Regions from separate parts of the Homo sapiens genome. Here region 2 is linked to region 1. Evidence: fine-mapped expression QTL. A gene starts in region 1. The other region holds a variant in brackets. All regions are shown on one strand. Distances are from middle to middle. Region 1 holds the start of TTYH3 (tweety family member 3). Region 2 overlaps IQCE (IQ motif containing E).

Region 1 (16,564 bases):
TCCTTTTCCGAGCCTCCAGAGCTGAGACTGGCAGGAGTGGAGCTGGAGAGCCCTTCCTGAATGGTGGCTGGCACTGGGTGTGCCCGGAGGAGGCGGCCCTGCCAGGGGCAGGATGGTGATGCCTCTGAAGGGCTTCCCCAGGTGGCCCCTGGACATCTTCACGTGACCCAAAAAAGGCCCCACCTCCTGCCTCCAGACCTTTCCCATGAGATGAGCCCCTCCGGGCAAGTAGGCCACCCCTAGAGCGGCCTCTAGAACCTTCCGTGCTTGTCCTAGGCTGGGGGCTGGAAGAGGGGTGGAGGCCACGGAGGGGCTGCCTGTTGCCCACCTCCACGCACAGCACTCCTCCCACGCTGAGCCGGGTCTCCAGGGTGTTGTGTTCTGGACAAAGCCTCCGGGGTGCTGGGGGGGCCTGCATTCCCTCCTGGGCCCCCTGCCTTGGAAATGGCATGTCAAGGGGAGGATCAGCTCTCCAGAGGATCCCCAGACCCAGCAGCCTGCCCGGCCCAGTGAGGGAGACCCCGGGTTCCCTGGGCTCCTGGGCCCACCCTGACCAGAAAACCAGCCAAGGAAGCTGAGCTGGCCTTTCCCCATGCGTGGGGGAGTGAAGTTTGTCAGATCCAGGCTTTGAAACCTAGAGGGTGCAGGACACTCCCTTGCCCAGGCCAGACAGAGACACAGTGGATGTGGGGTGAGGACAGGGTCCCCCAAGGGGACATGGGGCAGAGCACGCAGGTTATGTGGGGCCTGGCCTTGGACACCCCTTTTCCAGCATAATCCCAGTACCCACCCAGGGAGAGAAGCATGACCCTCCTCCTGTTACAGCTGGGGAAACTGAGGCTTAGAGAGTTGCCTGGCCGAAAGGTCTCTGCTCTTGGAGGGGGAGCAGTGTCTCCTTGGCAGCTCAAGCCTGTGACAGCCTGTGGTCCTGTGAGAGCAGCGGGCGGGGCTCCCGAGAGGGAGGTGAGAATCCATCCGGCAACCCCTCCCCACCCACTCTGCCCCAGCGCCTCCCTCCACGCCCGCTGCTGGCCTGTTTCTGAAGGTCGGTGAAAGACGTCTTACTCACCAAGCTCAGGCAGTGGGGTCGGTGGTCCACCTGCCAACAGCGACTCAGCCAGCCTTTGTCACCAATGCCAATTGCAGCCCACAGAGTGGCCAGATACCCTCTCCCACTGCTCCTGGAATTGGGGCACTGGAGGCCGCCAGGAAGAGACGGTAGTCCTGGGTCTTGATGAATATCCTGCTCAGACTCAGCCGGCTCCCGGCACCCCCAGAGCAGGAATTTACTGGCAGACAACGAACATCCCTTGAAAGCATCAGAGCATTAAGAAAGCTTTCCCCATTTTGTTTTTTGTTTGTTTGTTCGTTTCATTTTTGTTTTTATGTTTTTGAGACAAGGTCTTGCTCTGTTGCTCAGGCTGTAGAGTGCAGTGGTGCAATCACCGCTCACTGCAGCCTTGACCTCCTGGGCTCCGGCGATCCTCCTGCCTCAGCCTCTCAAGTAGCTGGGATTACACACATGTGCCACCACACCCAGCTAATTTTTGTATTTTTAGTAGAGATGGGGTTTCGCTATGTTGGCCAGGCTGGTCTCGAACTCCTGACCTCAAGTGATCCACCCATCTCGGCCTCCCAGAGTGCTGGGATTACTGGCGTGAGCCGCCGCGCTCGGCCCTTCCCCCATTTTGGAGTCCCCGGTATCTATTGTTTCCCTCTTTCTGTCCATGCTTACTCATTGCTCAGCTCCTGCTTATGAGTAAGAACGTGCGGTGTGTGAGCTCACTTAGGATGATGGCCTCCAGCTCCATCCATGTTCCGGCAAAGGCCATGATTTCATTCTTTTTTAAAAAAATGGCTGTTTCCTCAGTGAGTCAGGGCTATGGGTGTGGGATGAATCTCTTCCCTTCTCGGAGCCTCAGTTTCCCCATCTCTAAAATAGGAAACTGGACGCTAAGTTCCCCCGTCGGTGACATGGGTTCCCAAAGGGGTCATAGCAGTTGGGCCAAGCCTGACATAAGTCCCAGGTCTCACAACTCTCAGCACAGTGCTCATTGCAACAAAACCTAGCTGGTGGGTGGGGCTGCGTGGACAGGCTAATTTTTTTTTTTTTTTTGAGACAGCGTCTTGCTCTGTCGCCCAGGCTGGAGTGCAGTGGCGTGATCTCGGCTCACTGCAAGCTCCGCCTCCCGGGTTCACGCCATTCTCCTGCCTCAGCCTCCCGAGTAGCTGGGACTACAGGCACCCGCCAACACGCCCGGCTAATTTTTTGTATTTTTAGTAGAGACGGGCTTTCACCATGTTAGCCAGGATGGAATCGATCTCCTGACCTCGTGATCCACCCGCCTCGGCCCCCCAAAGTGCTGGGATTACAGGCGTGAGCCACCGCGCCCGGCCTCTATTTTTGAAATGTTTTGTAGAAATGGGGTCTCCCTGTGTTGCCCAGGCTGGTCTGGAACTCCTGGCTCAAGTGATCCTCCCACCTGGGCCTCCCAACGCGATGGGATTACAGGCGTGAGCTGCCATGCCTGACCTCAGGGCACTATTTTCTTTTCTTTTCTTTTTCTTTTTTTTTATTTTTTATTTTTGAGACGGAGTTTCGCTCTTGTCGCCCAGGCTAGAGTGCAATGGCGTGATCTCGGCTCATTGCCTGTGATCACTGCAGTCTCCGCCTCCCAGGTTCAAGCAATTCTCCTGCCTCAGCCTCCCGACTAGCTAGGATTACAGGCATAAGCCACCACGCCTGGCTAATTACGTATTTTTAGTAGAGATGGGGTTTCTCCATGTTGGTCAGGCTGGTCTCGAACTCCCGACCTCAGGTGATCTGCCGTCCTCGGCCTCCCAAAGTGCTGGGATTATAGGCATGAGTCGCCATGCCTGGCCTCAGGGCACTATTTTCAATCTACACTGGGCTTGGGACTCTGAGACCCGGTCTTGATAGTCTTATGTGGCAAGTAGGGAGGTTCTGAATGAGACACTCGACTTAAGTGATGGGACTTGGGACAGAATTCTTGGCAGCTCAGAGGCCATCCCCACTGGTCTCCTGGCTCCCAGTGGCTTTCTGGACAAGGCGAGGCTGCTGGCCAGGTGAGCCCAGATAATGAGAGGTGCTCACATCCTCACTCTGGCCAGGTGTGCGTGGCTTGCTCCGTGGTCCTCTTGGGGACCATGCTGGCTGGCACCTCTCCCAGCCTCCAGAGCTGCGGGCCAGTTGCCTCAGACCCAGATTGAAAGCAGTGCTTCTGTGGCTCCCCTGCGGCCGAGATCCATCAGCCAGGTGTCTGTGGTCCGCCAGGCACCGGCTGGCTGTGCGACCACAGCATCACCCAGCCTCATCTTAGCAGGCGCCAGGAAGCCCAGCCCCGCAGCCTTCTCTTCCCGGCCAGTGAGGTCCGTCTCCACAGAAAATGTGAACCTCTTTGGATGGGGCCCAAACACAGGGAATTCCATTGTTCTGGCTTCCGCCCCAGCATCTGGAGGAGCGGTCCAGGCCTGGCCATGCTCAGCTCAGGCCTGGCCTCTCTCCGGTGCCTGCAGGCCTTTGGACAACCATTCGGGAGCCTCAACCCTGCCGCCTTCCTGGCGTAGGGGAAAGACCCTGGGAGCTCCTGGCCTGGCTGCTCCCCTCCCTCCGTGCCAGACTGCCTCAGCAGTCTCTCACAGACTTTCCCAGGCCTGGTTTTTGCTCACAATCCCTATTTCACTTGAAAGAAGGAAGGGAAGGAGAGAGGGAGGAAGAAAGGGAGATAGGAGGGAGAGAGGGAAAGAGGGAGGGAGAAAGGAAGGAGGGAAAGATGGAGGGAGGGATGGAGGAAAGGAGGGAGTGAGGAAGAGGAGGGAGGGAGAGAGGGAGAAAGGAGGGAAGGAGGGAAAGAGAGGAAGGGAGGCAGGAAAAAAGGGAAAGAGGGAAGGAGGGAGGGAAGGAGGGAGGAAAGGAGGGAGGGAGGGAAAGAGGGGAAAGAAGGAAGGAGGGAGGGAGGAAAAGATGGAGGGAGGGAGGAAAAGATGGAGGGAAGGAAGGTGGAAGGGAGGGAAGGAGAGAGGGAGGGAGGAAACGAGGGAGGGAGGAGGAAGGAGAGAGGAAAGGAAGGTGGGGGGAGGGAGAAAGGAGAGAAAGGGAGGGAAGGCAGGAGGGAAGGAGAGAAGGGAGGGAGGACAGAAGGAGGGAGGGAGGGAAGAAGTGGGGAGGGAGGAAGGGCCCCTGGAACTAGGCTGAACCCTGGTTCCCTGACCAGCTTGTGATTCTCAAGGCCTCCCATGCAATGGCGGGGACCGGGCCTCAGTTGCTCCGTCTGTAGAGTGGGACTAAAGTCCAGCCTCCAGCCACAGTGGTTGCAGGACAGATGGGAAGAACCACACAGCTCTGGGCAGTGACTGTCGGGTCAAAGCAGGTGGGATGGTGGGCGGAGCTTCCTCCATGCCCTGGCCCACACTAGATCCTCTCTCTGGCCTTCTCTCCTTTACCCTTCCTGGCAGCTGGAGGGAGGGACCCACGGAGTTTCTCTTCAACACCCGGATCCCAAGCAGCATTGCACGGGGGTGAGGTAGGGACTCTGGCTGTGTTCTTCCAGAACCTTCACTGTGGGCCCCTTATTCTCTCCACCCTGGATCCCTTTTACCAAATTCTTCCTCCACAGGCCCCTTAGGAATAGATTTCATGGCCCAAACACACTGCAAATATTACTCAGTCATCAGTACCTTTTCATCCCATACCATCAGAGGCACAGGGCGCTGGCCACCAGGAAGCTCTGAGAAAGCCGGTGTGTTTGTTTCTGGATTTGCCGTGACAAAGCTCCACAAACTGAGTGGCTTCAAACACAGACATGCATTGTCTCACGGTTCTGGAGGCCAGAAGGCTGAGATTGAGGCGGGGCGCTCTGAGGGAGGGAGCGCCCCAGGCTTCTCTGCCAGCTTCTGGTGGCCCCTCGGCGTTCAGGGCTGTGGCGGCATCCCTGAGATTCTGCCTCCGTGTTCACACGGGTGCTTCCCTCTGTGTCTCTGTATCTCTGAGTCTGTGTCCAAATTTATCTTTTCTTATAAGGACACCATCTTTGCATTAGAGAACACTTTAACCCAGTATGACCTCATCTTCACTGGATTACATTTGCAAAGACTCTCATTTATTTATTATTTTTTTGAAATGGAGTTTCACTCTTGTTGCCCAGGCTGGGGTGCAATGGCGTGATCTCGGCTCACTGCAACCTCCGTCCCCCCGGGTTTAAGCTGTTCTCCTGCCTCAGCCTCCTGAGTAGCTAGGATTACAGGTGCATGGCACCACGCCCAGCTAATTTTGTAATCTTAGTAGAGACAGGGTTTCTCCATGTTGGTCAAAGTGGTCTGGAACTCCCAACCTCAGGTGATCCGCCCGCCTCAGCCTCCTAAAGTGTTGGGATTACAGGCATGAGCCTGTCACCCAGGCTGGAGTGCGGTGGCACGATCATAGCTCACTGCAGCCTAGATCTCCTAGGATCAAGTGATCCTCCCGCCTTAGCCTCCCAAGTAGCTGGAACTACTGTGGTGGCACAAGCCACCACACCCAGCTGATTAAATTTTTTTGTAGAGAAGGGTCTCACTATGTTGTCCAGGCTGGTCTCAAACTCATGGCCTCAAGCGGTCCTCCTGCCTTGGCCTCCCAAAGTGCTCGGATTTCAGGTATGAGCCACTGCTCCCGGCCCCTTTCTTCAAAGAAGGTGACGTTCACAGGTGCCAGGAGTTAGGACTTGAACATATCTTTTTGGGGAACATAATTCAATCCACTACACCTGAGTTATCATTTCTTTCTTTCTTTTTTTTTTTTTTTTTGAGATGGAGTTCGCTCTGTCACCCAGGCTGGAGTGCAATGGCGCAATCTCGGCTCACTGCACCCTCCACCTCCCGGGTTCAAGCGATTCTCCTGCCTCAGCCTCCCGAGTAGCTGGGATTACAGGCATGTGCCACCATGCCTGGCTAATTTTTGTATTTTTTTGTAGAGACGGGGTTTCACCATTTGCCCAGGCTGGTCTCGAACTCCTGACCTCAGGCGATCTCCCCTGCCTCGGTCTCCCAAAGTGTGGGGATTACAGGCGTGAGCCACTGTGCCTGACCCTAAGTTATCATCTCACATCATGTCTGCATCAGACTTTCTGGCTTTATCAAAAGGAAAGGTACAATTTTGCCAGGCTTCTGGAAACAGGGGAAGGAACTCCTGTACCCCCTGCCTGCATGTGTGTACCCTGGCAGGGCTGCCAGGCTGGTGTGGAGGGCACTGGAGTTGTGGTGGGGGGAAGCAGGAGGTCTGTTTGTGGCCATGGGAGCTGCTGCTAACAGCAGGAACCAGAAACGATCTCAGGCCATGAGGACAATTTCTGCAGCTGGCCAGGGACTGCCCTGTTCATCCCTGGAGTTATGCGACACAGAACTCTGAGGTCAGAGTCAGCCCAGGGCACGGGCCGTGCAGGCGATCCCCTGGCTGTGGAGATGAGGTCACAGGCTGGATGCTGGAGCAGTGTCAGGCTAGGAGTGGGCGTCCTGCCTAAGCCACCTGTTCACAGTGAGCAATCAGCTGGCGCCAAAGAAGAGGACTCACCTGGCCAGGTACCAGCCCACTCCAAGTAGGTAGCCTTGGTCTTAGGGGGTTGGGGGGGGCTTCATTCTGCCTGGAGCTCCCACCATCCTTGGCATTGGAGAGAGAGGAACCTGAGCCAGTATCCCCACCCCACCCCAAATTTCTGGCTCTTCGGCCTTTAGGGATGGAGAATGCGACCTCCCCCCTTCTGCCTGGCTGTTATTTCCCAGCTGGGTGGTGTCTCCAAGTTATCCAGCGGGTGGAAACCGCAGCTCAGCTAGTCCCTCTTGCCCGGTGCCCTATCACAGGAAAACAGGCGAGTCAGGGCAGTCAATGAGCCAAAGTCCAGGCCTCCTGGGAAGACACTGCCCGGAACCGTCCCTGCCTGCAAAGAGCTCTTCCTGCCAGGAACGGCCTGCCTGCCCACAGAGCTGGCCAAGTCGGGCACAGCAGATGGTGGAGCCCGGGTGTGGAAACCTGTTTCTCAGTACACAGGAGGTCCAGGAATAAGGCCCCAGGTGATGAAGCAGAGCCAGGATGCACCCACTGCCCTAGAGTGCGGAGGGAGGCGTGCACCTGGGCCCAAGCACGCACTATGTCCATCCTCCTGGCTCTGGCAGCTCCCATCTCCCCTTTAGCAAAGGAGGAGGCACAGGCATGGGGAGGCCCTGTTAGGAAATTTGGCTGTGTGGCTCCAAAGCCCATGATGGGCCCTCTCTGGCAGGTGCCTGAATTTTTAGGCCCCAGGACACCAGAACAGGGCACCGTCTTCATCTTAGGTCTTGACAAAAGACTCAACCTTCCCCAGAGGGAAGGCCGGATGGGGACTGAATCTACCTGCGGATCCACTTAACACTCGTACCTTTTTAAAAAAAATTTTTTTTATTTTTGAGATGGAGTCTCACTCTGTTGCCCAGGTTGGAGTGCAGTGGCGCAATCTCCACTCACCGCAACCTCCATCTCGCAGGTCCAAGCAATTCTCCTCCCTCAGCTTCCAGAGTAACTGGGATTACAGGCGCCCGCCACCACGCCTGGCTAATTTTTGTATTTTTAGTAGAGACGGGGTTTCACCATTTTGGCCAGGCTGGTCTCGAACTCCTGACCTCAGGTGATCCGCCTGCCTCGGCCTCCCAAAGTGCTGGGATTACAGGCATGAACCACCACCACGCCCTGCCAACACTCGTAGCTTTATCATCCCCTTTTACAGACAAGGACACCGATGCACAGAGTGGTTAAGTAACTTGCCCCAGATCACACAGCTCTAGGTGCCCCAGCCAGGCCCTGAATCCAGATCATGTCCATTGTACAGATAGGCCACTCGGTGCCTTGCTGGGCGCTGCGGGCTGTGGGCTGTTGTGTGTGCAATGGGGAGGCCAAGACCAGCCCAGCCCACCAGGCCGGACCCTCGAGTCAAATAAGAAACATGCAAAGATCCAAACGAAGAGCGAATTCATGGAATGAAGCGCAGCTGCATATGCAGCCAGGGTTCCAGCCCCCACGGCCACGTGGAAAGACTGGCTGGCCCGGGTCTTACAGCGCTGAGGGTCGGTCTTCCAGCGCCTTAGGGGCCAGGCGTCCCTCCAAGAAGGCGAGGAAGTAGGCGGAGCTTCTGCCGGCGGACTAATGACGGTACAGAGGCGGGGCCGAAGGGCGGGGACACGTGGAGGGGCGGGGCCATTGGGTAATGGGCGGGGATGCGAGTGGAGGGGCAAAACCATCAGGTAAAAGGACCAATAGAGGTTCAGGAGCGAGTGGGCGGGGCACGCTGTGGGGCGGGATCGGCGGGGGATAGACCAATGGTGGGTAAGAGGCGGGACAGAGGGCGGGGCGCGCGGGGGCTGGGCTGGCGGGAGGCGGGCCAATGGAGGCTCGGGGGCGGGGCCGGCGGGCGGACGGGCGGGGGTGCGGAGGGGGCGGCGGCGGCGGCGGCGAACAAAGAGGCGGCGGGCGCGGGCGGCCGAGCGGAGCCGAGCGCAGCCGAGCCGGGCCGAGCCGGGCCGGGCCGGGCCCAGGAGCGCGCGGATGATGCGGGCGGCCAGGCGGGGGTCGACGGGTCCCTGAAGCCCGCGCCCCGGGCCAGCAAGGGAGCCCCGCGCAGGCCGCGCGCATCCGGAGGCGGCCGGGCCCCGCCATGGCCGGGGTCAGCTACGCGGCGCCCTGGTGGGTGAGCCTCCTGCACCGGCTGCCCCACTTCGACCTGAGCTGGGAGGCCACTAGCAGCCAGTTCCGGCCCGAGGACACCGACTACCAGCAGGTGACATGGGCCTCTCGGGGTCGCGGGGTCAGGGACCCCAGGTCACGGCCCCCTCCTCTCCCAGGGTCACGGCCCCCATCCCCGAGGGCCTAAAGACCCCTCATCCCCCCCTCCAGGGTCACGGCCACCTCCTCCTCGCAGGTACCGGCCTCCTTCCTTCTCGAGGGTCCCTTCTGAGTCCTAGGACCCTTTCTTCCAGGGTCATGGCCTCCTCCTCAAAGGTCTAAATACCCTCCAACCCCCAGTGAGGGTCCACGGCCCCCCTCCCGATTCTGGCCTTCCCTTCTGGTGTCACTAAGGCCCCTGGGTTTCATGGAGCTGCCTCTCCCCACTCCGTGAGCCCCCTTGGCCAGTGGAGGGCCTCTCCACCATCACTGTTGGCGGCCTGGTGCTGTGTCCCAGCAGAGACCCCTCCCCAGATGACCCCCAGGCTCTGAGATCAGAGCGGGTGCCTGAGCACATTGGGTGCAGGCAGGCAGAGACTCCTCGCCCACTCACCCCCGACTGGGGAATCCCACTGCCAGGCTTCCAGTGGGTGAATGGCCTGGGCCGCCGCCAGCCCTCTGTGGCCGGTAATGACCCCCTGCTTGGCGGTCAGGCTGTGGGATGTACACAGGGTGCCGTGTGTGGCCGTGGGAGACCAGGCTGCCTGTAGCCCCCGGGGGAGGGAGGCCCGGCGGCCAGGAAGCACCGTGGGCCTCAGGCAGGGAGGCTGGAAGCGGCTGAGCCCAGGCAGACCTGGGGGGCGGCTGGGGGCCCTTTGCAGCCCTCTCCCAGGGGAGCCCTTAGCCTGGCATCATGCCAGGCCCCAGCACCACCCCCATCGCCAAGCTACTGTCATTTGAGTGCGGGGCAGGGGACCAAGCTGTGGGCATTTCCTTCCTGCCTAGAGATCCGGATTCCAGAAGCCCCGTGACCAGGGTCCCTGGTCACCCGGAGTTTCTCTCTGGACGGATCATGGCAGAGCCCCATGGTGGGGTGGGGATGGCTTTGCTTATCAAAATGGCTTGGGAATCCGGTATTCCGCGGGCAGCCTAGCACCTGGACTCTTCAGAACTGCGTTGTCTGTGGCCTCCCGCATCCAGAGGAGGGAGGCGGAAGTGGAGGAGCAGGGCACCTGGGAGCCCACTGCTCCCAGCCTCGCGCTCACTTGCACCCAGGCCCCCCAGCCGAGCCGATGACGTTTCCTAACAGATGAGGAAGGGGGCGAGGGATCGGCCCAGGCACGCCCAGACACAGCAGGGAGGAGGGAGGCGGAAGGATTGGTATAAAATCTCACGCCTGCGTTCTAGAAGCCCAGCCCTGGGGGACCGTTCAGTGTGGGGGCAATGCACATTCAGGAACTTCTGGAACTTATTCCATGCTGATGGCTTTGCCACTTGTCCCTGGAGGACTCTGTTGAAGCTGCAAGGAGGGTGTGCTTCACTTTGGAAAGTTCTCTGCCCTGAGGGTTTGGCCCATTTGTCAGTTCTTAAGCTCCGGGGCAGCCCTGGGGCGTGGGGGGCGGCTGTTTCCTGCTGCCCCTTGGGCTGCCACCTGCCCGAGCTGCCAGCCACAGTTGGACTTCCTTCCAGCCCTCCGGGGTGCCTGCATTCCCACATTCGAGACAGGCAGTGAGAGGGAGTGAGGGGCGATGATGTCTGCAGCCCACAAGAGCCTCCGGGCAGTAGCCAGGCCCCTCTGCTCAGCCTGACCTGCCTGGCCTCCAGCAGGGTGCTATGGCCCTGGGAGGCCCTGGCTTCTGCCCCCTTTCCTCCCCTGCCCTGCGCTCTGCTCTGCTGTGGGAGGGCTCTGACTCACTCTCTCTCCTGCCTCATCTCCACAGAGCAGAATTAGCCACTGAATAATTCACGATGTGGAAACCGGCCTGCCTCCATCCCCCGCCGCCTCCACTCCCGGCTCTTGGCGAGGGGCTGTGGCGTGAGCTGGTCCTGGCGTGCGTCCTGCCCCTGCCCTTCCAATACTGGTGCTTTTCGGCAACTGCTTGGTGTCTCTGAGCCTTCATTGCCTCATCCTGAATCTGGGCTGGCCGTGCCTCCTGTGTAGGGTCACCCCTGGGAGGCAAGGGCCAGGAGCCCCCTTCCTGGGAGAATGGGCAGTGGGTGGGCCTGGGCTGTGGCAGGCGCCCCTTCCTGCCTCCCCTGGTGAGGAGTTGCTGGCTGTAGTGGGGGGTGGACCCCTCACCCATCCTGACTGAGGGCTCCCTCTTAGCTGTCTCTGTGCTGCCCCAACCTGGGCTGTGCCCTGCTGGGGAGTGGGCATCTGCCCCGTGGTTATGGGGGCGGGGGGATGGAGGGGAGGTGGGGCCTGGGGTTGGGAGTTGGGGGTGTGGCACGGGGGACTGGCCTTTGTCCTTTGCTATTTCTGGCCCCCGTGGTCTGCTGTTGGGAACCCTGGTGAAACCCCCGGAGGGACCAGGGCCAGGTCCTGTTTCAAGGCCCTGCGTGGGACTGCCTGTCACTAGTCACTTTTCCCACAGCCCCAGGAGGTGGGGAGAGTTGTCCATTGTACAGATTAGCAAACTGAGGCTCCGAATCACATAGTGAGTAAGTGGTGGGGCCGCAGCCCTGCTGTAGGTCCCTCGTCCGGCCCCCCGAGGAGCCGGGGTCAGCCTGGAGTCGCAGGCTCCCCGGATTCCCCCACGGCTGCCTTGCCGCTGGGGGTGTGACCGTGGGATTAGAAGCTGATGGGGGCTGAGGGAGCTGTGAGAGGGCAGGGGGTGGAGGGGCATCTGGGGTCGGCTCTGTGCAGCTCCCCAGCCAGTGACTGTCGAGAGGGGCTCCCGTGCTGCCTGAGCATCTGAGTGAATGGGGGGCTGTTGTTCACAGGAGGGATTTGGAGGCCCACAGGAGGCCTGAGACTCCCTGGTGGCCCTGCAGCTGAGCTGGCAGGGCTGGGCCTGAGGCCTCTGGCGTGGCCCGGGGCCAGTCAGTGCTGCATAGTGAGTCCTGAATGTCAAGTGGGTCTGGCTGTCCTGCCCCGGGCAGGGGCCCTTGAGGGCAGCAGAGCCTTCTCTTCAGCTAGAGCATCGCAGGCCTGCACCCTCGCTCTGTCGCTTCTTCCTGCGTGACCTTGGGTGGTCCAGACACTGTCCTGGGCTTTATTCGGGGGAGGCCTGCCTGCTCAGCTCCCACCAGCCCTTTGTGACCCCGTGTCCTCAGGCAGGGATCAAGTTCATGCCCACTGACCTCAGCCTCTCTCTCGGGCTGTCTCCTCCAGCTCAGGGCAGGCCAGATGCAGGACAACAGCTACGGACTGTGGTGGGTTGCGAACCCAGGCGGTGGGAGCCCAGTGGTCAGGGAAGGCTTCCTGCAGGAGGTGGTGTTAACTGGCTTGCCATGGAGGTTGCAAGCCCGGCTGCCGACAATCAGAGGGTTAGGATTTGCCTGCTCATTTCTGACTCCTCCATGGGCCGTGCTGGCCCTGGCAGGTGATGGTTTCACTGGGACATCTGCCTTCCAGGGCAGATAGTGGGCCCTGCCTCAGTTTGCCTAGCATGGGGGACGTGTTTTCCACTAGAGCCTGGAATGCCCAGATGTTTCTGTTGAGACCTTAATGATAAGACTGAGGTCACCATACAGAGACCTTGGGGAAGAGCTTCTGGGCTGGGGGAACGGCAGGTGCAAAGGCCCTGAGGCAGAGAGAAGCTTGAGCCTCGGGGAGAGGCCTCAGCCCCACGTGCCAGAGGGTCGCTCTGGTCTGACTGCGCACGGGGAATGTGCTGCCTCAGGAACTGGTGAGCCCTCTGTTCCAGGCACTGTGCCAGCCCAGGCTGGATGGCCACTCAGAGGGGATCTGAGCTCTGGGAGTAGGGCCAGTGTTCTCCTAGCAGAGTTGGGAGCCTGGCTCCTAAGAGCACAACACCTCTGTCTGTGCCGCCACAAGGTGAGGTCAGCCTTGTGCCCAGTTGCAGCCTGGGGGGCAGTTCCCTGGGGCAGGGCTGGCCTGTTATCATCCTCCCCACTCATCAGAAGGAAATGAGTTCTGGTTAAAACGGCAGTGTTGGTCGCCTGTCGCCTGTCTTGTCATTTACGAAAGCAGTACACGTTCATGGAACATTTGGGGAAAAGGGAAGAGCGTGAGACAGAAGCGTCCCTCCAGCTGGGTTCAGTCCAAGAGCATAGAGCTGTAGGGTGGGTGTCCCTGAGAACTGGAATCCTATTGCTTTTGACATGTCTCGTACTTTGGACCGTGTTCCAGATGCTTGTCCAGCGTCCCACGGTGCCAGGCAGGATTCTGTACCTACAGATGACAGAAGCGGGCCAGACACGGAGGCCCCCGGGGAGCTGGGTGGAAGCTTCAGGAGCAATCCCTGAGTGGACAGGAGCTGATGAACTAGGCTGGGGGTGTACAGCGAATGGGACCCTGCATTGGGGGGTGGAGGTGGGCAGGAAGCCCCTGATGGCTGGTCCCAGTCCACTCAGGATTTCCATCTTGGCCGGTGTCTGCATTCCTGGGGAGACTCCGATTGGCTGAGCTTGCCTTTTGGCCAGGGGGTGTGAAGCTGTGGGCCCTGGACCTGCTTGGGGTGGGTGTCAGGCCACCCTTGGCCCGGCCGCTGCCCGCATCAAGGGTTCCTATATCTGGGCTCCTGGTTTTTGTGGTTCTGAGGGTACTCTGGCCACCTCTGTCCCCAGGAGACTCTGGGGTTCTCAAGCCCCTTCCTTGGAGTGCAGCAGCCTGGGACCCTCTAGAAGTCCCCGAGGTCTTCACGGCTTTTTGTAGGTGTGGATGTTGGGGTGGTTATTCTTGCTCAGGGTGCTGGCTCCCTGATCTCCCCAGTTCTAGCATCACCAGGGGCCACTCCAGTCTGTGTGTGCGGGACCCCCGCCTGCCCCCCACTCGCCTGAGACTCGAGGGCCAGCTCTAGGACCCCTCTTCTGGGCATCTCCATGGTGACCCTTCTTCCTCCCCTGACCCCTGGGCAGGCCCTGCCAGCCAACCCCGTCTAAGGGATTTGCAGTGTCAGCCGCTCTGACCCCCGGCCGGGGGCTCTTGGTCAGGCTCTGGGGGAGCGGGGAGCCCTGCAGCTTGGTTCCCCAGGCCACGGCGGCTCTCCCCGGATGCTTGTGCTGCTCGTTTCTAAAGCACTTTTCTTGGAGAGCCACCCAGTGGCCCTGGGAGGTGGACACTGTGTCCCCGACATAAGCAGAAACGGGGGCCGGCCAGCATGGGGGGCCGGAAGACTGGGCACGGGTTCCAGCTGCAGCCCAGCCACGTCCGTCCCAGTGGATACAGCGTCAGCACAGTTCGTGAACCCAGGGGTGCAGGTTTAGGGGGCTCAGGGGCATCTACACTTCCCCCACCTGCCCCACCGTCAGTTCTGCTGAGGCCTCGGCTAGAGAAGAGGAACCGAATCTGCAGCCAGGGGCCTGGGGTCAAGGACATGGGAAGTGCCTGACGTGGCCACCGGGGAATTGGCATGTGACAGCGGGTGGATGGTGGGTGTGGGAGGGTCACAGGAGGGCCTCCTGTACCCGGGCCTGCCGCTATGTTCTGCAGGGAGCCCACCCAGGCCCTGTGCTGGGCCTCACACCATCCGAGGGGGCTTCTCACAGTCTTGGGAGGCTGGCTGAGACCTGAGTCCTGTGGGGCAGCACCCACTGTGGCTGGGTCAGGCCCATGTTGGCCGAGGGTGTGGGAGGAAGCCGGGCCACCCACAGAGTGCCAGTGCCTTCGGCCTCTGAGGAGGGTACCAGCCACAGTGCCCCTAGCCGTTCTGCCCCCCTCGGGCCTGTGCACGCTGGCTGGGTTCCTGGCCATCGTGGAAGAGCACTCCTGAAGTTCTGGGGTGCACCCAGCTCTGAGCCCTGCAGCCCTGTGTCTGGGGTTCGGCCGTGCCCTCTGGGCTGCCTCTCCCTGGTAGGGAGCTGATCCCGGAGATGGGGCTCCAGTCTGGCGGCTCCTGGCTGGGTCTGAGGCCTGGGGCCCGGTCCCCAGGCAGCTGGTGCAGAGGGCTGCAGACAAGTGGGAAGAGCAGGGGATTTTCCGGGTGTCACGCTGGGAGATGTGTCGGAGCACGGGGACCAAAATAGACACGCTTGCTGCAGCTCTTTGGTGTCTGTTCCTTGCACGAGGGGGAGGGCGGGCGTGGGCAGCGGGAGAGCTGGGGTCCCCCGGCTACAGGGTGCAGGAAAGGGGCCCGGCCTGTGGGGAGACGGGCAGGAGCGGCTCTGAGCCTCAGCCCCAGGGCTGCCTCTCTGGCCTCCTTCCAGGCCATTCCTGGAGGGTGAGGGCCAGCCCGGAGGGAGCCCCGGGGGGTGTGGGGCCATGTGCAGCCTGGCGACCTGGACCTCGGACCTCAGGAGTTGGGGACAGGGACACAAAGTTGGCCCCGACCCCGGCTCCCACGTGGCCGCTGCTGGCTGCACGTCCTCCAGGCACGGCCAGGAGCTCACCGTCATGGAATGCGTGAAACCCAAACCCAGCCTGGTGGAAAATCTGTTTTTAATTTTGGGCCAGTGTCGCTGGGAGCCTGGGCCGAGTGTGCTATGGGTAGGGGCTGGGGCCACGTGTCCAGCTTGGCCGCATGGGGGGCTGAGGCCTAGCCAAAGACTGTGACCCTGGACCCCCCACTTGTGCAAGGGGACCCACGAGGCAAAGGTAGGGGGACCCACTTCCCAGTGGCGGGCCCCTGACATGGGGGTGGTGGTAGTGGCTCGCACACGCCGAGCCCACCCTGGCCTCCCCAAACAAGTCTGGGCCCTAGGGATCCCGCCCCTTTCCTGACCCTGGCCCAGGACACCTGGGGGGTTCTCACAGTGCTGGGGGCCAGAACCCCTCGGTCTGCACTGGGGTGTGGGACCCCAGCCAGCCTCTCAGACACCCCCAAACCTTGTTGCTTCCTCTGGAGGAGGGGCCTTGGGAGTTCCAGGGCTGGAGTTCAGCATCCGTGGAGGCAGGTGGGGGTCACTCCCCTCCCACTCCCACCTCTCGCCTGCCACGTCCTCCCGGAGCCCCGTGCTGCTGCCATACGCACAGGCTCAGGCCAGGGCCTGGCTGGTCCCTGCTGCCAGTGTATCTTCGGCATGCAGGAGACGTTTGCCGCCTGGACCCTGTGCCAGGCCTTGGCTGACACTGTCCCCGGGCCAAGAGTGCCCTCCCCCACCTGTTGCGGTACCCACGATGCTCCCCACAACGGGAGTTTCAGTGACCGCCTCATTCCTCTTCCTGCCTCCCACAGCCTCCGAGCTCACGGGGCCAGCACTGTGGGCACAGGGGAGCCCCCGACCTAGCGCGGCCGAGCTGTCTGTCCAAGCCTGGGCCCCAGCACCCAGCGCAAGCTGCTGCTAAGATGCCCTGGAAGCTGATGCTCCCAATTAGCCCGGAGCCCAGCCAGGACCACAGCCGTCAGTGTGGGGACTCCGTCCCCATCCAGGAAGCCGGGGGTGACTCTGTCCCCACTGCAGTCAGGCTGTGTGGCCGTTACCATATTGTGTGTCTGTCACATGCCGGCACCTCTGGTGGGGTTCTGGCCCCTCAGTGGCCTCTGTGGAGCCTGTCCCTTTCCCTCCTCCAAGCTGTGTCACTTCCACACGGAGCTGGCACGAGGGGCGGGGCAGGGCTGGAACCCACCTTCTGCCCACCCCTTCTCTGGCCACCGGGGGCTGCTTCTCCTGCCACCCCTGCTCACCGTGCCCCGTGGCTGCACCCCTGGGGCTCGCTGGTCTCTCCCAATGCCTCGGGCAGCCATCATCCTCAGCTGTGGTCACGCTGCCTGGCCTGCCAGCTCACCCGCCCCCGCTGTGTGACTGTGGACTCTGGAA
Region 2 (12,896 bases), 21 kb before region 1:
ACAGGTGTGTGCCGTGCCCAGCTAATTTTCTGTAGAGACGAGGTCTTGCTGTGTTGCCCGGGCTGATCTGAATTTCCTGGCCTCAAGTGATCACCCTGCCTCAGCCTCCCAAAGTGCTGGGATTACAGGCATGAACCACTGCACCCAGCCACATAGCCTAAGAAAATCATTTCAGGATAAATAATTCTCTTAAGATCACTTCAGAGGTCTTGTGGCCCCTTGCTTGATTTAGAAGACATCTATGGAAAGTAGATGAAACCAATAAACTATTCCAACCTGAAAAAACGCTCCAACATGAAAACCTAACCATGTGTGAAATACCAGCTCCTATTAGCCGCTGAAAGGGACTGCAGTGAGCAGCGGGCACCTTGCCATTCCCAGAGTCCCCACTGTGCTGACAGGTGCCATGCCCTGTCAGCTCCCTGGGGCGCCAGTGAGTTTCTCCCAGACTGGGGTGAGTGGGAGCACGGACGGCTCTTTGAGAGAACGTGGCTGCACAGCAGTGAAGGGAGTCACGTTCCCTGCTGCCGTGGCAGCTCTCTCCTCGGCGCCTCCCTCTCGCCCGCCGTTGCCCCGGGCACTCACACCCACTTTTCTCTCCCTGCTTCCTTCCCTGACAGGCGGCTGTGGTGCTTCAGGCAGCTTTCAGGGGACATCTCACGCGGACAAAGCTCTTAGCAAGCAAAGCACATGGCTCAGAGCCACCCAGCGTGCCAGGCCTCCCAGACCAGGTAATGTCGGGGTGCTGGACGTCCCAGTGGCCATCTGCAGAGCTGCTCGTCTCGCACTCCATCCATCGAGAAAGCGTAGGGCACCCCTCAGCCTCCACATCCCCGCCCGCCCAGCAGGCGTCCCCTGCGCTCCATCCCTGGCCACGCAGGCCATGCAGGCTTCTCTGCGCAGGCCCCTCTGCACAGGCCCCGGATGGATGTGGCGTTAGGGCCAGATTGCGTTAAGCTGCCGGAGAGTCAAGTAGCTCCATGAAGATGTAGCTAAAAACTACTAAAGACAGATGCAGGCCATTGCGGCCCCTCCTCTGTATTGAGGACCAGGTTTTTGTTTAAGAATCCCTATAGTAGGCCGGGCGCGGTGGCTCACACCTGTAATCCCAGCACTTTTGGAGGCCGAGGCAGGTGGATCACAAGGTCAGGAGATCGAGACCATCCTGGCTAACATGGTGAAACTCTGTCTCTACTAAAAACACAAAAAATTAGCCGGGCGTGGTGGCGGGCGCCCGCAGTCCCAGCTACTCAGGAGGCTGAGGCAGGAGAATGGGGTGAACCCGGAAGGCGGAGCTTACAGTGAGTCGAGATCACGCCACTGCACTCCAGCCTGGGCAACAGAGCGAGACTCCATCTCAAAAATAAATAAATAAGTAAATAAATAAATAAATAAATAAATAAATAGATAAATAAGAATCCCTACAGTTTAAAAATTCAGAACCTGCCACCAGGAGGCTGTTCACTGACCAGCAATTCCCGGGAGGCAGGGCCATCTGAAAAGGAAACTGAGCTCTTCCTGTCTCCCTGACGCCCAGGGTGCCCTGGGGGTTGAGTGCTGGGAGCCAGCAGGGGGCTGCCAAACAGTCGTCTTCCCTGCTGTCCTTGCACCCCAGAGCTCTCCTGTGCCCCGCGTTCCGAGCCCCATCGCCCAGGCCACGGGCAGCCCTGTGCAGGAGGAGGCCATCGTCATCATCCAGTCCGCTCTGCGGGCACACCTGGCCCGGGCCAGGCACAGGTGAGTCAGGGTCACGGGGACGTGGGACACAGACATGGCACGAGAGGCTGCCCACCGCACTGGGCCCGGAGCACTGGGTGCAGGGCATGTGGCGGAAACTGGAGCAGCGCCTGCCGCCTGCCAGCGGGACCTCGGTTTGGAGCCAGAGTAAAGGCTTCACATCCTGAGGACTCCCTGCTGCACCACGGACGTGGAGTGGGCTGGAAGGTGTGATCCTCGGGGGAGGCCTTTCCAGAGTCGCTTCTTCCCTACCGGGAGGAGATGAGAAGAGGAGCTTCACACACCGTGTAGCTCAGGTCACCATCAGTCTGTGGCCTGGCTTTTGGCTGTGCTGATAGGTCATCCCTGTGAAAGAAAACTGTGTTGTGACCTCCGTGTTGGACACGGCATATGACAGGCGACGCGTGCAGGGTCTAGATGGCAGCGTTCCCACAGGCCTCTTGGTGGGTTTGCTAGGACTCTCGGTTGCAGAAATCAAAACCCCTTGAAGTGAGCCTGGCCGGGGGGAGTTTACAGTAAGGGGAAGAGACGGCCCCGCTCCGTCACCCCCGTCTGCTTCACCCCGCATGGGGTTTGTTCCCCTCTTATCACAGACTGCTCTGGTTCTCAGCCTCTGTGGTGGAGCCGCGCGGCCACCCAGCACTTCCGAGTGGGCAGTTTCTCCCTCCAAGGCCGCATCTGCATCTCATGGTCCTGACCCCATGTGACCTGGGACACACTGTGGGCTCAGGAGTCAGGGACCCATCCCTGGGCGGCGAGCCCCAGCCAGGAGGTGGAGGGCCATGCAGCCTGCAAGCATGTCCCCGGGGAATGGCAGCTGGGCTGACCCAGACAGGAGACAGGGAACGGAGCCGTCTGAGGCCAGCTTATAAAACCATGCCGGCCTGACCTCAGCATGGTCCCCGAGGAGATGGACGGGGACGTGTCTGAGGCTCTTCACCGCCGGACGTTTCTGGACCCTGGGTGCATATTGGGTACAGCGCTGGTCGTGGGGCTCGGGACTGGCTCTGTGTTTGCTTTCATTGGAATACTTGCCTCCAAGCAAATTACTGAGGCTGCTGTAAACCTCAGAGAGGTTTGTACTCTCTAAAAGCAGAATCAGCTGGCGTTTTCTGTTTTTTTCCAGTGCTACCGGTAAAAGAACCACCACCGCAGCTTCTACCAGGAGGAGATCGGCTTCAGCCACACACGGGGACGCCTCCTCCCCACCCTTCCTCGCAGCTCTTCCTGGTAATTTCATTCATTTGGATTCTGGCACCAGGGCAGCTGGTCTGCTGAGGTCTCAGCCAAAGAGTGGCCACCTCCAGGAAGCCCGGGCTGTGTCGGGACGGAAGGGAGGAGTGTCCCATCTGGAGCTGCCTCTGAACTAAGCGTCGCCTTATGCCAGGAAGGCCCACAACAGGGCCCCGCCTTGGCCCAGCTTGTCCTTTGTGCCTGGAATTGCCGAGGTCCTTGCTGTCTTTATTTTTTGCTCTCAGCTCCAACAGGACCGAGGTGGCTTCCTCCTTCAGGCCAGCATTTCTCCTGTTTGTTTGTTGAGTAAAACCGTGTTATTGTTTCCTTTTCTACTTTGTTAAAGTCCAAAAACAGTCAGTGAAGAAGCCGCTGGCACTGCAGGATGCCACACCCTGGTGTGAGGCCTCATCCCTGCTCTGCCCGGAGCTGACGGGGATGCCCCAGCAGGCCCTGCCTTTCTCTGGCCGTCAGTCCCTTCATGTTTAAAGTAGAGAACGGGCTAGACAGCTGGAAAGCCACTCTCCACCCCAAATCTATGCTGCTCTGCGTGGACTTGAGATCCCGTGTCTTATCCTGCAATTAGAAACCCCCCATTGACACCTCCTGTAAAGGGAAGATGAGTGCGGAGGCACGCTGTTGAGACTCGGGACTGTCGGGAGATGGAGAAGGGCAGCCTTAAGACCCTGTTGAGGAGGGGAGTGTGGCGTGCGGGGCTGTTTCACGTGGGAAGTGTCAGGCGAAGGGCTTTGCTGTGCTGAGTCCTTAGGTCTCCAGGGTGGAGTCAGGGAAGGAGGAGAGAGAACAGCAAGGAAAACCACAAAGGAAGAGGCTCTTCTGAGCCCAAAGGGTGAGGGTGAGGAAGGCCAGGGGGTGAAGGAAGGGTGAGGCCTGCCCAGGACCCACATGCCTTAATTTGAATGTCCCTTCAGGACGGGCCCAGGGAGCCGGCAGCCCCCCAGTACCACTCCAGTAAGTGTGGGGGCCCGTGGCGGGCGGAGGCCTCGCTTTCCTGGGAGATCCCTCCTGTGCTGACGCGGAGTCACGGAGTTGGGAAGAGGCCGTTTTGAGGCCCGCATCAGACCTGGAGCCCGAGAG[C/G]CTTCCCTCCCCAGGGGGTCCCGCTAGGGGCTGTGTTTTAGAGAGTCTCCTGCACGAGCTAAGAACCGTATACCACGTTTGACCTGGAAATACCACGTATGAAATCACATTTTATTTTCATTTTTTAACCTAGTTTCGTCAGAGCTAGAAAACTTTGAACTTTGATATTCTCTCCAAAACTTCCATTTGTAAAGCTCAACACAAAGATGAGCAGCCTGGGGTTTCGGGGAGAATGTACAGACACGCAAAGCGGTCGGGCCGGCCTGTGACTCGTGGGCTCTGCAAAAGGCTTTCAGTTGTTCTCCGGGAGCCGATTCTACCGGCTTCGCCAGACCCTGCCTTTGGTGACCTTTAGAGGCTTTGATCAGGGCTAAAGCGTGCGTTGATGCTGCCCTTTTCTCTTGCTCAACGCAAGTGATTTTAAAGACGCAAGTTCATCCCCGTGACCCAGGGATTCAGCTTTATTGACCTAAGGAAATGTCTCTGTGAAAAGTATAAATCAAGCTTTTGTTTGAGCTGATTGGTTGTTTTTGAAGATAACCATGAAAGCTGTTTTTAATTTCATAAGGTTCCCCTTTAATATGAATTTTCTTGAAAGTTGCAGGAAAAAAAAGCTGACACAGTTACAGTATCTGCGGCATGGCCGAATTGCCATTTCCTTCCCTTTTTAAAATCTCACATGAGCAGTTCATTACTTTTTTACTTTCGTCTTTCAAGGCAGCGACACTCAGGCTCCCCGGCAAGGAGCTCTGGGGCTGCTGCTGTGGTAGGACCCGTCCCTTCTTCAGCTCTGGTACCCACCTCCATCCCGTCTGTAGGTGGCGTCCCATTCTAGAATGGATTAAAAGTTTGGAACGCTCTAGATGCTTAGGAAGGAGCATCCAAGGGGGAATGGCCGAGCAGCTTGCAAGCTCACAGCGATCCGTGCCTTGCCCCCTCCTGCCCTCTATACCAGTGGCCAGCGAGTTAACAGGGAAGTTGGCTTTTTTTTTTTTTTTTTTGAAGTGCAGTCTAGCTGTGTTGCCCAGGCTGGTCTGGAACTCCTGGGTTCAAGCCACCCTCCCACCTCGGCCTCCAGAGTCCTGGGGTTACAGGCATGAGCCACTGCACCCAGCAGAAACGCTCCTACACACGGGTAGCCACCCACCCAGGCCCCAGACTCCTGGACTGCTGCTGTGGGAATGGCTTTCAGGGAATGACTCCAGTGTGGACTCGAGGTTCCTCCATGCTGGCAAATGTCTGCTTTTGCAGGTGTTTTGACTGGGGGAAATGGTGAGAATACTCAGAGCTGAGTTTGAAGGTGAGGAGAGTGAGGCTTTCTGGCAGGTGTGTAAGTTGGTCCTGAGGCTGGAGAGTGAGGCTTTCTAGCAGGTGTGTAAGTTGGTCCTGAGGCTGGAGAGTGAGGCTTTCTGGCAGGTGTGTAAGTTGGTCCTGAGGCTGGAGAGTGAGGCTTTCTGGCAGGTGTGTAAGTTGGTCCTGAGGCTGGAGAGTGAGGCTTTCTGGCAGGTGTGTGAGTTGGTCCTGAGGGCGGAGAGTGAGGCTTTCTGGCAGGTGTGTGAGTTGCTCCTGAGGGCCTGTGTGCCCCATGGCTTACTGCTTCTCGGGGTGGCTGCCGTCTTGCCTGCCGGGGAAGAGCAGACAGTGTAAGGGTGTCCGTGGTGGCAGCCCCTGAGGTCAGCGTGGCTGACCCCTCTCCCTGTGGTTCATTTCTGCAGACCCCTCTCCCTCAGGGCCACAGGCCTTGGCACCTCTACCTGGGGATGACGTCAACTCCGATGATTCCGACGATATTGTCATTGCACCGTCTCTGCCCACGAAGAACTTTCCAGTTTAGGTCCCCGTCACTGTCTCCACGCCGTGATGGCAGCGCTGCCGAGGACATAGGAACCACGACTGGAAAGATAATTTATCGTGTTAGGAGAAGAACGATGATACCTACTTAACACCTCAGCATCTGCGTCGTGTCTCTTTGTGCTTTTGTTTGTGGAAGGAGACCCAAATGCCTTTACTTTATTCTCTGGGGAGGGCCAGCGGCTCGCATCCCCCTCATCTCCAGCTGCAGCTCGGATGGTGGATTTTCAGTGCCAACAGACACATCTGCCGTGAACTCGCAGATGCCAGGGAGCCCTGTAGTGACACGTTCTCTGACAGCACCTTGCCGCCTGCCCACGACCTTGACCGTGAGGAGCTGCTATCCGCAACCAGCGCCGACACCATGCCCCCTCTTCCTGGTGACACCCTCAACAACCAGGATTTGCTCGATCTCAGCCCAGCAGGCCAGGCAGACACACCCCGCTGTGCCTTAGGAAGGTGTGAGACCGGCTTCCCCCATCCCCACAGCAAAACACGGCCTGTCCCAAGCCAGTGAGGAGCTAAAGACACCCAGGTCCCCAAATGATCTTACTCCATGCCCCACCCGCTCACACCGTCCTTTCCCGTCACCCTTGCTATCCCCTGGAGCACTGCCCTCCAGAGCTGCCCTTCCCAGGAAGGAATTTGGTTGGATTCTGTCACTGTGGAGACCAAGATTTTTTAAAATTCCCAATTACAAAAGCAGCATCACACTTGCTTCTGAGAACAGCAGGGTGATGTCTGTTCCCAAGCTGGTGGCGGGAGCCTTAGCCTGTGTGGGGCCACCCGGGGAAGAGGAGGAGAGGAGGGTGAGGAGGCAGGCTCGCCGTTCCAAGGGACAGCATAGGCTCGTGGTGGGGCGTGTTGCATCTGGTGTCTGGGACAGTCCCCGTCACCCCATGTGTGCGGCCTCTGCACTCCCAAGCTCCATGGCTGGGCTGGGCTGGGCTGGGCTGGGCTGGGCCGGGCGTGCGGAGCCTGTGGAGCCAGCAGCTGCAGAGGCCTAGGAGGGAGTTCCTGGGGGAAGCGCACAGTGTCCAGTGCCCATCTCTTGCTTGTGTGTGAGATTAGCCCTTGCTGGGGCGTCAAGAGGAAGAGCCTTAGACCTGGGCGGGCCTTCAGGGGCATCTAGACCCCTGCACAGCCCAGGCCTGGTGTCTGCATTTCCACAGCACCCCTGTGGGGACTCCTGCCGGGGCTGGCCGCTGTCTCAGGAGAGACCCAATGGTTAGAAAGCCCCTTTTTACACAGCTGACAGCTTCTCCCAAGGCTTCCGTCCACGGGGACAGGCTTAACCCCTGGGCGCCTTTTCTGCAGCATGGCGGCCTTCTGAGTCACCTAAGCTGAGCCTGGGTCATTCTCTGTGGCGGTCAGAAGGCCGATGGCCCCAACACAGTGGCTTGTGAAAGGGAGAGAGGAGGCTCTGCATGTCCACCTGCTCTATGGGAGGAGGACACAGGTGTCCCCAGCCCAGCCTGTTCTCTCCCAGTCACTCAGGGATGGGGCCACCCAAAGTGCAGGACCCGCCCCACCCTGCGGTTCGAAGCCTGGCCCCTGTCTCCACTTAGCTTCTGTTTCTGCAGTGGGTGGAAGCGAGTCAGCGGGGGGCCTGGCTTGTGTACGTGTTTTCCTTATTTGGTCTGTGGGTTGCCAAGTCCATTTTTTTTTCCACTGAACTGGCTGGTAACTTGATGGACTGTGTAACTGACACAGGCCCTCTTTAGACCCCTGCCTTCACCCCACCCGCCCGGGTCCACTCCCTGGGGCGCTGTCCCAAGCCATCCCTGCTTGCCAGCTCAAAGCTTCAGGTCCTAGGAGCCAGTCCACCTCGAAAGCCCTGAGAAAGTGAGACACCTGCACATTCGCTGGGGGAGACCCTCCGTTCTCTTGTGGCAGCTGCTCCCACTTGTTAAACCAAGCTGTTTCTGCGGGACGTGCTCACTCTTGGGAACCAGTGGCCTAGAGCTTTGGGTTACAGGCATGGAGAGGGCTTTCCTGCCTCAGGCTTGGAGGCCAATGTTCCATACATAAACCGCCATGTCCTCTGGTGCAGCTGGGCTGCTCTTTTAAAAGCCAGCATCCATCTTGAAGCTCGCTGGGTAAATGGCAATGCATTCTCAAGCCAGTGTCTTCAGCTGATGCCCAGTGTCCAGTGCTGGTCACCAGTCCCCTTTGCTGGGTACAGCCTGCCTGGCTGTTCTGTGGTCCTGGAACGCTGCAGTGTGGTTTTGTTCCATGGAGACAGTACCAAGCGGAGAGGCCTCCTTGCCCACGGCCCCAGGGCCTGGGGGCCAGGGGTTCTGGCCCTGCGGGGACTTAGGCAGGAGGGGAAGAGAAGCCCATGGAGCCATGGGAGGGGTGAGCTGTGGGCGGGGCCTAGTCATGGGAGGGGTGAGCTGTGGGCGGGGCGAGCTGTGGGTGGGGCCTAGCCATGGGAGAGGTGAGCTGTGAATGGGGCTAGCTATGGGTGGGGTGAGCTGTGGACAGGGCCTAGCCATGGGAAAGGTGAGCTGTGGGCGGGGCCTAGTCACGGGAGAGGTGAGCTGTGGGCGGGGCCTAGTCATGGGAGGGGTGAGCTGTGGATGGGGCCTAGCCATGGGAGGGGTGAGCTGTGAGTGGGGCTGAGCCATGGGAGCAGCAAGCTGGTGGAGTGGGCTGGGCGGAGCTGTGGGGGCTGCTGGCAGGGCCTAGGAAAGTAGACAACTCCCGGGGGAGACGAAGTAGAGAGTGAGTCCCCAAGAAAGGGACTCCTGCCCCAGCGTCAAGTGCCAAAGCAGGCCCCATCTACCACTTCAGGGTCGACGTTGGTGGCAGGTGTTGTTCACGGTGTACTGATTGTCACTGCAACACCTCCACATCACCTTGAACTTCAAGAACAGCAGCAAAGCTGTATCTGCTATCAGAGGCTGTTAGGTAGTCCAGCTTTAAAATAACACACTCTTTCTCTATCCCATGCCCTTTAAACAAGCAGCCACAGGAGATGTCAGTCTCCAGGGCCTGGCCCCACTGTGTTGACAGCAGTCACGTCTGTTGAGCTGACACTGCTGAGGCTGAAGCTGGCCCCGTGCAGGTGGCTGGTGAGCCACAGGTGCAGTACCCGGAGGTGTGCTCTCCCCTAGAGGCCTGTCCCCAACTCCTCCCCTAGAGGCCTATTCCCGCTGCTCACAGACCTCAGCAGAGGCACCAGCTGGAGGGCTCCAGGGACATCCTTGGAGATACAGGAGGCTTTCCTGGCACAGGGCACAGCTCTTAGGAGGCCTTTGTAGGACGCTGTCTCCCCAGCGTGTCCTGCTCATCCAGGATGGGGAGAAAGAGGAGGAGGCCCCAGGCTCAGAAGCCAGGGACAGACTGCCGACGATTACCAAACTGAATCCAGGCAGTGCCATGACCCTGGGTGTCCCTTGGTTCACATCACCCACCAGACAGCTGCGGAGAGAGTGCAGGGAGGGGCTGGGACCAAACAGGCCAGAAACCAGCAGAAAAGAGGCAGAAGTGAGGTGGGTGTGCCTGGGGCACGAAGCCAGCGCCGGGGGGATTTCAGTGGAGCCTTACAGCCAGGCTCCGTGCGGACTGTGATGCCAGAGAGGCGTGCAGCCTCTGGGCAAGTCGGGAGAGGGCTTGGGTGGTCCCCACAAGGCAGAAGAGGTGGAAGGGCCAGAGAAGACCACCAAGACCACCGTTCCCGCAGGCCTGGGGTGAGTGACCTGACTGAGACTAGCGGGCAGAGCCAAGCAGGGCTAAACTCCAACCCAGGGCCCGGTGTTGGACAAAGTAGCTTTTTCTTTGCTCGTTTGTCTGTGTATTAAGAAGAGACTAAAATAGCCAAACGACGCTGGTCGCATGCGCTGGCTGTGGTCTGTCTGCTGAATGTCTATTTTTGTCTCCTGACGAGACGTGAGGACCATGCCCTTGATCCCTCCGATGGACCAGAAACCCCCTTCCTTGCAAAAAAAAGGCAATTGAATTAGGAAAAGATAGCCCAACCTAGCTCAGATCCACCAAGATAAGCACAGCAAAGCTTGGCTGCATTTTTGAGGAATAAAAACCTGCAGAAAGCACCGATAACCTTCAAGATCTGAATGAGATTCTATTATAACCCGTCTAAACGATTGCAAAATTCCTCCTTTGGTTTTGGAAGCAGCGTTTGCTCTCCCGTGGCTCGGATTCTCTGAGGACCAGGGAGTTGACACACAAACCCCGCCATGGGTCCGAGCCAGCTATTTCTCAAGGCTCCCACCTCGCCAAGCTCCCAAGGGCCTGCTGGCAGTGCCTACGCTGTGCCAACTACCCTGTCTGGTACAGACCACGGCTGGGTAAGCACCCTTAAAAGCAACAGAAATGACGTCTGGAAGCTGAAATGTGAAACTGTCAAGATGGCTTAGGAGAGGAAGGAGTGGACCCGCTGGTCTTTGGCATTTTGTATTTAGAATTATTCTAACTTTATACATAATGTATAGGCCGATCTTTTGGAAGGGATAAGGTTTTCATTCTTGTGCAACTCATTATTCTCATTATTGGCCTTTTAAATAAAAAGTTGTTTTGCAGTGTGCCTTGAGTGCCCCGTGAAGACTTCTCTTTAATGACCTCCAGGTGTGTTCCTGCCCCACGCACTCGGGCTGAACAAACGATCCGCTTCAGAAACCCCGCTTCTCTGGGCTTCTGGCATTTTGCCGTGGTCGTAATGCAGGCTTGGGGTTGGAGAGCCAGCTGGAGGGACGGGTCCCGCCGCCAGCTCCCTGCCACGCATGAACTCGGATACATCTGTTGACACCCCGGTCCCCCGTCGAATATCTATTCCTTAGATATGAGGACACAAAAATGTGCGTGCGTGAGGGAGTTATTTCTCCATATTTGATTTCATTTTTGTTTCAGGAGCAGGGAAAGAATAATTTACTGAGGAATCAAACACAGATGGAAACGACCAAAAGGAGCTGATATCTGGGTTTTGTTTTCCAATATTTTGTTGCATAGAACAAGGAGCATCTGTGGCTTTGTGTGCTTGTGGCTGCCTGCCCTGGGGCCCTAAATCCTGAGTGGAGTTTGTCCGAAGCCTCCACAGTTACTGTGGTTGGCTCTGGCATTTGCCCAAGCCTATTTTCTCTCTATCGATCTTATATGTGTGTGTGTGTGTGTGTGTGTGTGTGTGTGAAAATATATGTATATTTTTAAATTGAGATAGGGTCTTGCTGTCTTGCCCTGGCCGGAGTGCAGTGGTGCAGTCATAGCTCACTGCAGCCTCAAACTCTTGGGCTTAAGCAATCCTCTTGCCTCAGCCTCCCAGATAGCTGGGACTATAGGTGTGCACCACTGTGCCCAACCACTTTTTAAAAAATTTCTGTCACGCCTGTAATCCCAGCACTTTGGGAGGCCAAGGCAGGCGGATCACGAGGTCAGGAGTTCAAGACCAGCCTGGCCAATATGGTGACACCCCATCTCTACTAAAAATACAAAAATTAGCCGGGCATGGTGGCGTGCGTCTGTAGTCCCAGCTACTCGGGAGGCTGAGGCAGAATTGCTTGAACCTGGGAGGTGGAGGTTGTAGTGAGCCGAGATGGCGCCATTACACTCCAGCCTGGGCGACAGAGCGAGACTCTGTCTCAAAAAAATAAAAATAAAAATTCTGTAGAGATGAGGACTTGCTAAGTTGCCCAGGCTAGTCGAACTACTAGGCCCAAGTGATCCTCCCACCTCAGCCTCCCAAGTGGCTGAAACTACAGGTACGCACCTGGCTAATATACAAAATTTGAGGGGTGGGGCACAGTGGTTCGTGCCCGTAATCCCAGCACTTTAGGAGGCTGAGGCAGTGAATCACCTGAGGTCAGGAGTTCGAGGCCAGCCTGGCCAACATGGTGAAACCCCGTCTCTACTAAAAATACAAAAAGTAGCCGGGCGTGATGGCACATGCCAGTAATCCCAGCTACTCAGGAGGCTGAGGCAGGAGAATCACTTGAACCCGGGAGGTGGAGGTTGCAGCGAGCCATTGCACTCCAGCCTGGGCAAGAAGAGCAAAACTCCGTCTAAATAAATAAATAAAATTTTATTTTGGTGGAGGTTGCAGTGAGCCATTGCACTCCAGCCTGGGCAAGAAGAGCAAAACTCCATCTCAATAAATAAATAAATAAATAAATAAAATATATTTTTCTGGTAGAGATGGGGCCTTGCTATGTTGCCCAGGCTGGTGTCCAATGCCTCGCCTCAAGCGATCCTCCCACCTTGGCCTCCCAAAGTGTTGGAATTACAGGTGCGAGCCACCGTGGCCTGCCCCGAGCCCATCTTTACACTCCGATGGCCTGTGTGCTGTCCTGGCAAGCGGTTCATTTGCAGACTTGCACTTTGCAGACGAGCTGGTAGGGCCTGAGGGAGCCTGTGGCATTGGAGAGCATGGTGCACCAGGCACTCGCCCGCTGCAAGCTCGCTGCCCCCGCAGTCGCCAGCTGTGATCTCCCCTAGGGGTTCAGACCCAGGAGCAGAGAGGAGGCAGCCTGTGGGGGCTTCTCAGCTAGAACTGGCGAGAGGAGGAGAGAGAAGGTCCAACCTCAGGCCTCCACCCACCGTGGGCCGGGGTATGGATAGACATGGAAGTATGTGAGCGTGGACATCCATGCGCACGCGCACAGGCACACGGGGAGAACCCTCTTCCTCTTCCCCATCCAGCCCTCTGGTTTTTGGTGCTCCCAGACGTGCGCTGAGTGCATGAGGGCCTCCTCAAAGACCGAGTGAGGGTCACCACAAGCTCTTGCCAAGACAGTTTTAAATATGAGATTCCTCCAAGGTCCCTGGGGGACATAGGAAAAAAAAGAAGTAAGCCTCTGAGTCCCTCGCTCCTTTCAGCACTGCTGTCGGGCTTGGAATATGAATGACGGGCTGCAGAACAGGGTGGCGTGTCTCTGCGTGGGTGCCAGCTAATGGCCTTTGGCCAGCACCTCCCCACTGGATCCCGGGAGCAGGGCCCAGTGTCAGCCCCGAGGGCCAGCCCC

The links. PIP is the estimated chance that this variant, and not a neighbour inherited with it, causes the effect.
Region 2: its variant is fine-mapped to the expression of TTYH3 in whole blood (TOPMed, PIP 0.99).

The regions. Positions count from the first base shown.
Region 1 is chr7:2,623,481-2,640,044 of GRCh38, forward strand. TTYH3 (tweety family member 3) reads left to right here and starts at 8,506. Exons shown (of 14, transcript NM_025250.3): 1 at 8,506-8,798. The coding sequence starts at 8,676. RefSeq lists enhancers at 1-308, 7,931-8,662, 9,395-10,127, 9,907-10,016, 10,860-11,592 and 2 more and a silencer at 8,447-8,856.
Region 2 is chr7:2,604,261-2,617,156 of GRCh38, forward strand. It overlaps IQCE (IQ motif containing E), which reads left to right. Exons shown (of 22, transcript NM_152558.5): 19 at 621-731; 20 at 1,616-1,737; 21 at 2,864-2,967; 22 at 5,784-10,468. The coding sequence ends at 5,902. It overlaps LOC107986760 (a long non-coding RNA gene), which reads right to left. Exons shown (of 3, transcript XR_001745069.2): 3 at 10,323-10,716. Among named protein-coding and RNA genes, the nearest start is that of TTYH3, 21 kb to the right of the region's middle. RefSeq lists enhancers at 5,813-6,386, 6,387-6,960. The variant C/G (reference allele first, on the strand shown) is at 4,069.